2 separate regions of the Homo sapiens genome follow, and region 1 is linked to region 2. Evidence: fine-mapped expression QTL. A gene starts in region 2. The other region holds a variant in brackets. All regions are shown on one strand. Distances are between the middles of the regions. Region 1 overlaps XPC (XPC complex subunit, DNA damage recognition and repair factor). Region 2 holds the start of XPC-AS1 (XPC antisense RNA 1).

The links.
Region 1: its variant is fine-mapped to the expression of XPC-AS1 in tibial nerve (GTEx, PIP 0.91).

What each region holds. Positions count from the first base shown.
Region 1 is chr3:14,167,095-14,172,352 of GRCh38, forward strand. XPC (XPC complex subunit, DNA damage recognition and repair factor) reads right to left here. Exons shown (of 16, transcript NM_004628.5): 3 at 3,344-3,456; 4 at 1,163-1,286; 5 at 75-159. Among named protein-coding and RNA genes, the nearest start is that of XPC, 8.9 kb to the right of the region's middle. The variant A/G (reference allele first, on the strand shown) is at 2,507.
Region 2 is chr3:14,147,349-14,152,835 of GRCh38, forward strand. It overlaps XPC-AS1 (XPC antisense RNA 1), which reads left to right and starts at 2,214. Exons shown (of 2, transcript XR_001740603.2): 1 at 2,214-2,254; 2 at 2,494-5,487. It overlaps XPC (XPC complex subunit, DNA damage recognition and repair factor), which reads right to left. Exons shown (of 16, transcript NM_004628.5): 11 at 4,987-5,068; 12 at 1,466-1,600; 13 at 1,214-1,383; 14 at 560-653; 15 at 1-31. RefSeq lists enhancers at 1,205-1,889, 3,507-4,007.

The DNA.
Region 1 (5,258 bases), 20 kb after region 2:
AAATAAAGCCTCGGTGAGCACAAGCTCTTTGCACCGACAAGGAAAAGTCCTTCCCCATCATTCCTTGCCCTTACCTTGTGTGTGTCCTCATGGACCCCTTTATTGAAACGTTTCATCGCCCTCCGAAGATATGTCTCAAACTCCAGTTTTATCTTTTCACTGCAACAAATAGTGAAAAATCTGGGAATGAAGGGGGGAACTGAAACCAGACTCCACTCCCCCAGGCAATTCCTTCTCCTCGGATGACAGTGAATCACTCTCCCTGTTTCCCTACACAAGGCTGTGCTACTCAAGTCCGTCTGCAAGCCAGCTATTTCCTGCAGGCTCTTTGGCTCCTTCTCACCAGCAAACCTCGGCCTGGGACATTCTGTACCCAGACAACCCTCCTCTCAACCAGCAGCAGATCACACCTCACCTACATGCCTCAAAGCTCACTTCTTCCAGGAAGTCTTCTCTGGCTGTCCAACTCTTCCGACTACTGACTCTCTCCTTAGCAACCATTACCTTTATTAATGTTAAATTAACACACCATCATTTATGTGACACTGTTCTAGTGTAAAATCTCTTTTTCAGTCTGTATCCCATTAATCTTCAAGACAACTTGACACTTCTTGAATGATTTGTATTATCTCCCTCTTCTGTGCCTAGTAATGTGCCCATCGCACATTGGAATTCCCAAGCCATCAGAGGCTGCAGAGGTACTCCGGGATGCTGGGAAGGATAGGGGCTCCCTACCACGGCGGGCACTGCCTCAAGTCCTGCAGCATGACATGGTGAGGAAAATGTGAATGCCAAGTCAATGAGAAGGATTAGGTCTCAGCTCTTCCATTACTGGCTGAGTGACTCTTGAAACGTTACTTAGCGTCTGAACGTTACTTAGCTCCTCATTCACAACACTGTTCTAAGGATTAGGTAAGATAACGGATGACCTGCTCAATCCTTGGCACACAGGAGTTCCCTCTCCTCATCCCTCACCAGCCCCAGCCAGGACACGAAGGTGTCTCATTCAAGTCTCTAAAGGTAAATCAGGTTCCTGACCCAAGGTTCTCGACCACTTTGATACTCAGTCCTGGTCCCCTACAAGTTTCTCCAAAGTCCTCCTAAGCAGCAGCTGTTGCCTACTGCATGTGACAGGAGCCTAGAAGCAAGGGCCTAAGCTTACCTTCTTTCTCTTGTCTTCGCCTGCTCTGGCGTTTCAATCTCTATCTCCACTGGCTTCACAGGCAGAAGAGATCGAGAGAAGGCTGTACTTTCTCTCACGTCACCCAGCACAGGCTCACTAAGTTCTATCAACAAGCATTTTTAAAAATCAGTAATAGTAATAACAATAATAATAGCTACTGTACTGAACAGAATCAAGGTTCTGCTGGGAAGGAGGAAGTGAGGCATGAATGTGAGGGAGACAGCCCACAGAGACCCCTAGACATGCCTTGCCCTGAGTCCTACCATGTGCCGGGCAGTGTGCTGAGTGTTATATATTCGTGTGTCTCATTTAACCCACACAACCCAGACAGTCTTTAGATAAAGAACCTAAAGCATAGAGATACTGGGTTGAATCAGATACAGACCCCTCTATCAAAAAGCTGACACTCATGCATGTATGTATATACTTAAAACTCTTTAAAAAAAAAAAACCCAAGTGAGAATAATCTCCTTTTCTCTGTATTCTGTATTACCACAATAACAATTAGCACAATTTGCTTTGTATAGAGTCATGACTCAGGTGTCCATCTTTCATTCTCAATTATAAACTTGTAAGTGACAAAAAATATATCCTTTTCATCTCTTCACCCCCTACGTTGCTTGTATACAGTAGCTGAGAAGGACTGAACTTGCTGAACTGGATCTAATTGAAAACTTCATTAGCAAAAGTTCCTTAAAAGAGGCTCTGGGCCTAGAAGCCATGACATCTTACTGGCAAAGAATGCATCTAATGCCAGATCTTGGTCTCTATACATGAATCTCTATTAAAATGAACCACAGCTTCTTGAAGAAAAAAAGGCTGGTTTCAAGTCTACAGCAAGAAAAGTATAAGCTGAACAAAAATGTTCTCAAAGACTAATGAGGCCATGTCAAAAGGACATGGTAGTACAGCTAGCTTAAAGGTAGCATGACTAGAAGAGGAACAACCTGACATTAGAGGTGGCTTAATCAATGCAAGATGAGGTTTAAAGCATCATCTAGGAAGGATTCTTGGAAAAAAAATAAAAGTTTAATCAAAATTACATGTCTTTGGACTTAGTTTACAAGAAATACAGGGGATATTGAAACAAGTTTAACACCACCATGAGATGTGTGACTGTTTATCAGACAAAACTAGAACATGAGACAGTCTACAAAACAAAAGACTAGGATCCTTCAAAAAAGGCAGTGCTATGAAAAGCAAAACAAGGCGGTAGGTGGGAAATACTGCTCTATATTAAGAGAGTAAAGTGACATAAAGACCAAATACAAGGCTTGGTTGGATCTTGGTATGGAAAAAGAAACAGGCATAAAGGATGCTTTC[A/G]TAACAATTGGGGACTTATTTTTCATTTTCGTAGGTGTGATGAGGTCATTTTGTCATGCAGGAGAATGTCTAATTATTAGGAAATGCAGGCTGAAGTATTCAGCAGTGGAGTATCAGAATATCTACAACTTATTTTCAAATGGTTCCACAATGAATATTTACAGAGAGAAACATACATTCAATGTGGCAAAATGTTAATGAACCTAGGTGAAGGACATATATTACATTTTTCACTCTTTTTATAAATTTGAACACTTTCAAAATAAAAAGGTGAGGAAAAGTCAGGCCAGACAGAAGGAATCAGGGATGATAACATTAGCTGGTATTTACTGTGAGTGTATGATACATTAGGCCCATTACATTTGCAAACTTTCTTTTCCCCACAATAATCCTACAGCCTATACTGTGAATGGCTCACACTAAACATTCAGTGTTTACAGAGTGTTACCAATGAGAAAACTCAGTTCAGAGAGGTGAAGTTACTTGCTCAAGATTAAATTACTCACTCACACTGCCACCTAAGTGGCAAAGTTGAGCACTGAACCCAATTCTAACTACTTTCAAAGCCTGTGCTCCTTCTCCTAAATAGTGCTGCCTCTCTATTTATATCTACCCCATTGACAGTCACCAGAGGAAGAGAGTAAACAGCCTTCTTTGGTAACTTGGCCATGAGTTTTTCCATATATATCAAAGCAAGTCCCTAGTACAACCTTATCTGTGGTCTAATTAGCTCAAAAGAAAACAAAAGGATTGCAATTAGTGATCTGACTCCAAACAGAATCAAACAAAAAAACAAACAGAACCAAACAGTTCTGAAAACAAAGAAAGATGTTTCACCTTCAACCTCTTCCCAATCATTTTCACTTTCTTCCTCTTCTTCATTGCTGTCTTCATTCATGGTAGCCCCTCTCTTCAGATGGTGTGCCTTCTTGAGGTCACTTGGAAAGTCCCTGTGTAAAGACCACAGGAAGGAAGATGAAGAAGACTCAGACATCCTAGTGTTCCATTCAAGCTAAATGGAATTTTTAAAACCCCTCCTATTTATTGAGAATCTGTTGCAACTATTTAAAGATGATTAGTAAGCTCTGAGCCTCACTTCCTCCATCAACATGTGTTCCAAATCTCATCAAGATGTGCTCTGATCATCTGTCTAATTACTACCAGATGTGCTGTTAAAAAACCTACAATCTAGATCGTGTGAAAGAAAACATAGCTGTGCCTGGACATGACAAGGAAAAATTAGAAGACACCAAAATAATAATGAGTTCCAGAACTGTGATATCTGTGTGATATATGTGCAGTTGGAGGCCAGAAAGAACAGAATAAAATCTCCATTTATATATCCTACTATAAGCCTACTCAGACTTCTTTTCCATCTTTAAGAAATATGATGTAAGGAGACTGAAATTCATAGCATTCTAACTTCAAGCAGGGATGTAACTACACATAGGTGAGTCATAAATAACAAGAGACATAGACAGCTAGCTAGCTAAGTAGATAATAACATAGATAAGTAGCTGGCTAAACAATGGCTCAAGGCTAAGTACTTGCTGATACGTAATATATTTCTGCAAATTCATATATAAAATGTGTCTAGAGTATCCAGTTACTTTTAACTTGTGTAAACTTTGGCACTTGGTACCAAGTGAGAATATTATCTAGGATTTTGGTATAAACATTTAAAATAACCAATCATCAATCTTGAGCTCTAATAATACACTCTTTTTTTAGAGTACCACTTTCTCTCAAAACACCAGCAATAAAAATTTCCCCTTAGAATGAACATAGCAGAAATGACCACAGTCAATGCTCAGGGGAGAGGGAAAGGGGGACCCAGAGCTTTCCTTGGCAGTATCGTGGCCTATCTCTATGTATATGTCTCTGGAGATAGAATTCAACTAGTGAGGGGAGGCAACTGGAAAGCAGTAAGTTCAGAGGTATTCTTCAGAAAAGTCTAGGGAAGGCCAGGCGCAATGGCTCACGCCTGTAAGCCCAGCACTTTGGGAGGCTGAGCAGGGCAGATCACCTGAGGTCAGGAGTTCGACACCAACATGGTGGAACCCTGTTTCTACTAAAAATACAAAAATTAGCTGGGCGTGGTGGTGGGCACCTACAGTCCCAGCTACTCAGGAGGCTCACTTGAACCTGGGAGGCGGAGGTTGCAGTGAGCCAAGATTGCATCACTAGACTCCAGCCTGGGCAACAGAGCGAGACTCCATTAAGGACGGGACCGGGATGGGGACGGGACGGGGCGGGACGGGAAGGGAAGTCTAGAGAAAAGGAGAAGAGATGGATCATGGCGGAAAATCATCATGCTGTCCCGTGTCCCTTCCTGTGCCCTCTACTGGACTACTCTCCCATCCCAGGACTAGAGGCTGCTGGAAAAGCTGATACTGGCAGTGAGGATTTGTTTATGAAGCAAATGAAAAACTATCCCTCTGTTCTTCCTCTTCTCCCCACCCCTCAACTTTCTTAGGAGGCAGAAAATCAAGTGTTCCCTGGGCTCATAATCACTGTTCACAACATATTAATATAAATGCTCATTCATTGCAAAAATACTTGTTCAGTTTCTGCCAAATAAAAGGGCCTGCAATGGATGCTACAGGGCATATGAAAAGGAACCCCACATGGTTCCAGCCCTCTGAGAGGTCACAGGGTAGTAAGCCTGGGTATGTGGCATGGTAACAATAACTGGCAGACATATCACACTCCCTAGAAGCGCTACAGGAAGTCAGAGGAGAGAAGGGGGAAG
Region 2 (5,487 bases):
TCCAGTTCCCTAGAGCCCGCTTCTCCTTTTTCTGCAGGCAAAAATGAAGTGGGAGAAAAGTGTTAAGCACTGACATTTTCAGGAAAAATATTAAGATGGAAACTGTGAATGTAAAGACAGATATATACACCACTTTAGAATATAGCCTCTCCTTCACACCAAGTCTCACTTCCAAAAAATTGATCTGATTTACAAAGTGATATACTATACCTGAAAGCCACAAAAACAGATAACTTTTTAATCGTTACTGACTCCAAAATCTTTAGTGGGTGAGGTCTTCCAGAACCTGGACACAGGCAATTCAAGACAGAGGCAGGTGTGGGCAGCAGGGGCAGTAGACCCCAGAGCCCGGACCCAGGCTCCTCAGGGACAGTGATAGTCTGCGGGGTGGGCAGGAGCCTGCTGTATTCAGTGCTCGCTCCCTCGGGTGCCTGCCATGATGTCAGAGAGGGCTGGGAAGAGCCTGGGAGCACACGGAGGCGGCCTGGGGAAGGAAGAGGCCACCCGCTGAGTGTTGCTTCCCGCTTCTGCTGTCCCTCAGTCCTGCATATGCGCTTACCTCCTTCTCCTTCCTTTCAATGACTGCCTGCTCATTTTCCCAGGCAGTCAGGAGCACGTCTTTGAATTCCTCGCAGACGATGTATCCATCAGTCCTGTGGGGACACAACGCGATGTCAACCCTCGAACCTGCTGCCTGCTCTGCCTCTCCTCCCTCCCCAGTTTGTGGAAGACAGTGGGCCACATCTGAGCACTAGGGGTCCTGAAGGATGTCGCGGGTCAGCCAGTGTCCCACATCCTCCGTGCAGAAGGCAGGCCTGTGGAAGCTGGCACTGCCTCTTCCTCCCCAGATTCTGCCGAAGAAAGCTGGGGTGAAAGCCCCTATCCAGCCTCACCCATCATGGAACAGAGCTCACTAACCAGGCAGCTGCCGGGGAAAGATGCTGACTGTTTTTTGCTCACTAGCCTGTGAGTCCCTAAACCTGGGAAGAACGTTTTAATCCAGCATTACGATGCCAGTTTCATTGGCTCCGTTCCCTCTGGAGGGAAGCCAGAATTGGTAAAGCACTGACTTTGCAAATCCAGTGTAACATCCTGAAAATTGGAGCCACCAGGCCTCAACTCCCAGCAGCCCCATGCCAGCTTTCCATCCCCATCTCTGGAGCCACCCCTCCCCATCCCTGTGTTTAGCCTCCATCGAAGGCCCCTCACGCACACGGGATGGGAGTAGCCGCCATGGAAATCAAAGCCAGTGATGGCCTGGACACAGTCGATGTCCAGCTTGCGGGCCACGCGGTGTAGATTGGGCAGGTTCAGCTGGACACAGCCAATAGGCATCATGCTGGGCAGGAAGAGGTACACATTCCCAAACTCGTTCCGGGGCACCTGTGTCGGGTGAGCAAGTCAGCATTTGGCCAGCAGGGGAACAAGGCGGCCTGGTCCTGAGCCCTTCTGATGCTGCCCTTACCTTCCCGTCCACGGCCACTGGGGGCTGATACTCCTCTGTCTGCCAGTAGCCAAACAGGCCCAGGTCATTTTCTTCCCGCAGCTGGGGCTCAGCAAGTCGGGCTTTCCGAGCACGGTTAGAAAAGCCTTTCACCATCTGCACCAGAGGACACGGCCACCGTTTACAACAAAGGCATCCAGTTCCTCAGCACCGGGCCAGGCACCATGCTCAGTGCCGCATGCCTGGTACCTGGTGAACCCTCAGAACACACCTACCAGCTGGGGTGCTTTTTCTCCCTTTTTTTTTTTTGAGACAGAGTCTCGCTCTGTCGCCCAGGCTGGAGTACAGTGGTGCAATCTTGGCTCGCTGCAACCTCTGCCTCCTGGGTTTAAGCAATTCTCCTGCCTCAGCCTCCTGAGTAGCTGGGATTACAGGTGCCTGCCACCACGCCCGGCTAATTTTTGTATTTTTAGTAGAGACGGGGGTTTCACCATGTTGGCCAGGCTGGTCTCGAACTCCTGACCTCAGGTGATGCACTCGCCTCAACCTCCCAAAGGGCTGGGATTACAGGCGTGAGCCACCGTGCCCGGCTGCTCCCCTTTTCTTACTACAAGCACTAGCTAACATTTATGGAACATTCTCTGTCCCAGACACTATTCTCGGTGTTTTTTGTTTTTTTATCCCCCTGAGACGGAGTCTCACTCTGTTGCCCAGGCTGGAGTGCCCTGGTGTGATCTCAGCTCACTACAACCTCCACCTCCCGGATTCAAGTGATTCTCGTGCCTGTCTCCTGAGTAGCTGGGACTACAGGTACCCGCCACCATGCCCAGCTAATTTTTATATTTTTGGTAGAGATGGGGTGTCACCATATTGGCCTGGCTGGTCTCAAACTTCTGACCTCAAATGATCCACCTGCCTTGGCCTCCGAAAGTGCTGGAATTACAGGCATGAGCCACTGCGCCCAGCCTATCTTCAGTGCTTTATATGTTATTATTTAATTTTTTCAACAAACCCACAAGGTAGGTCTTATTATTGTTTCCATTTTACAGATGAACACCACAGACGGGGTAAATGATTTGCCTAAAGTCACACAGCTCGTAAGGGCCAGAGCCCACACTTTCATCCACTAGCCTATATTCTGTGCTGTCATCACTGATAGCAGTGACTGAGACTGAGAGACAAAGTCACTTAAGAGCTGATGGCTGGTAAGTGACAAGAACCAGGATTTACAATTCAGGTAACTGTCCATCAGTAGAGCCTGTGTCTCAACATATAACCTATGTCTGCTCACACGCCCTAGAAAGCACTGACAGTTCAGGACTCCCAGTGTGCTCCCCAACAGCGTGCAGTGGCCAAGGCCAAGATCTTCCCTGGGGAGTGAAGTGGTGAGAGGGGCGCAGGACAGGCAAGGACAGAGTCACGTAACTCTTAGAGGAGTCAGGCATGGGCGTGCGGCTGAGGGCTGGCCCCTGGGCCTCAGCATACAGACTTCCTCTAGTGCAGGGGCCCACAAGCTTGTTCTGTAAAGGGTCATGCGTGGCCTCCATCACATATTCTTTATTCTTCTCATTCTTATAACCCTTTAAAAATGTGAAAAGCCATTCCCCAGGTTGGGGGTGGCCTGCGAGCTCTCATGTCCATTCCTGCCATGATCTCTGGGCGCACCCTCTCTGTCACCACTTCAGGGACAGAGGGACTCTGAGTTCTGACAACCGTCCCTTTCTGAGAAGCCATTCACCCAGCACACTGTTCAGTAAACTTCCACTGGGATCTCCTGGAGACCAGGCCATGACCCAGTCATGAAGGAGGGATGGAGCGAGGACAGTCTTTGCTCTTAGGAGCTCAGGCTCCTGCAGGGGAAGAGACAGAGCTACGACTCAGCGTGATGAGTACAGGGTGGAACAGGAGCTCAGAGGCAAGCCATTGCCCAGCCCTGAGGACAGTGGAGGCAAGAAAGGCTGCTCAAAACAGGTCCCGCCTGAGCAGAGGCTTAAAGGGGCAAGGGGTTGCCCAAGAGAACAGGGCTGGACCCCACAGGGCACAGAGGTGGGAGAACACTGGGACCTGGGGCCTAAGTCCTCTGGAATGCAGAGGCAGTGAGCACCAGAACATCACTGTGCACCATGGGGAGGGTGCGGGACTCAGACTAAAGGCGCTGGCCAAGGTGGGACAAGGATGGCCAAGATGCACAGAAAGAGCCTAGTGACTGACAGGGGAATGGATTCAGGCTGGGAAGGAGGCTGTGGCTGTTGCCCAAGCAAAAGATACTGAGGCAGGAGCTGGGGTGGTGGGGATCAGAACAAGGGGTGAATTTGAGAGATTTGGGATTCCAGAACTGTGCTACCATGACAGCCACCAGTCACGTGTGGCCACTGCACACCTGAAACGTGGCTGGTCTGAACTAAGGTACAGAAAGTCAAATACACAGAAGATTAGAGAGACTTAGGAACAAAATGGATTTAAATATCTCATCAACACTTTAAAATATTTCTTACTGCTGAAATAGTATTTTAGATATATCTGGATATATTTTAATGTTAAAATTCCACCTGTTTTTGGTTTTTAATGTAGCTACTAAAAAATTTAAATGTGTGGCTCACGTTACATTTCAACTGAACACTGCTATGCTGGTTCCAGCACAAAAGACAGGTGAGATGGTGCAGAGAAAATCCTCAGCAACCCTGCAGGCCCAGGCAGGGGGCATCGCCCACTCCAGCCTGCTGCTGGCAGTGACTGTGACCAGCGCCTGCAGCCTTTCCCACTAAGCGGAGGCCCCTCCACTCCCCACTCAGCTTCCCGGAGTCTTGCAACCCCCAAGGACTCCTGGGGTCTGATGAGAAGTAAATGGTCTCTGTGATCAGCCACTGTACACTTCCGGTCGTACGGAGCTGTGTGTCCTGTGAATAGTCTCTGTGGGACCTCGCTCGGTTCGTGTTCCTCAAGAGCAACCAGCCTAACAGTGCCGCAGCACAGTGTGAAAGGAGCACTGGCTTTAAGGCAGAGCCTGGGATTCTCACCTGGGCTCTGCTCTGCCATTTTACTAACTGTGGGGACTTGGACAAGTCACTTGCCCTGAGCTTCAGTTTTCTCATCTGTAAAATGGGCATCATAATGCCAATTCCTATGGCTTTTGAGGCAACAGAGATCACATACATGCAAAATGCTCAGTGAACTGCCAAACAGAAGGGCAATCTGACTGGAGAACGTGCTGCTATAAAGCAGGGCTCTGACCTCCCAGGACCCAGTAACTCAATTCCAACCTGTAGAACCTTTGAATTCACAACAGGAGTCTGAGGCCTACTTTTTGGCCTAGATTTCTTTTGTGTTTTGGAAGATCCATTTCTTACAAATGTCTTATTAATAAGACAATTTAAATGTTTCTCTCCTCCTTGAATCCTGCTCAAGCCGGGAAAGTGAGACATTTCTGATCAGGATCCTGGGCAGGACTGGGAGGCTCATCATCACTTCTCTGCCCCCAGCTCTCCCGCTCAGCTACAGGCCTGTGTCACCACTCCCCACAGGGACCCCCCAGCTCCAGTTACCTTGTAGGGTACTTCTCCAAGCCTCACCACTCTTGCTTTCTTCAGCCACGTGTCCCTGGAATGCAGAGTGTGCACACAATCCCTGTGGAACCAACACAGGACACAAAGGTAACTCAGTCCACAGCCCCACTGCGGGAATGCGGGACAGTGGAGAGCGCAGCCCTGCAGGCTCCCTCCTCAGGTTCAGCCACCCTGGAGCAGGCCGAGCTCCTAGGGGGCCCAGAGAAGCTGTGCTAGGCAAACAGCCTTGAACGTGGACTGCCTGTCTTTTGGGGGATGTGTCCACTTACAAACCCTAATCTGCAGCCTTTGTGCCTTGCCTCCACCACTCCTCCCCTTCATAGGTTTTCTTCTCCTCTGCTGTCCAGAGCCTGTGAGAGCTCCAGCTGCAGACTATCAGGATGGGGTAAAGGCCGCTGTGCGCAGGCACACTCACGTTTACTACCACCACCAAGCGAACACCTGCTGAGGCTCTGATCTGCTGTTAACACCATGTGGGGG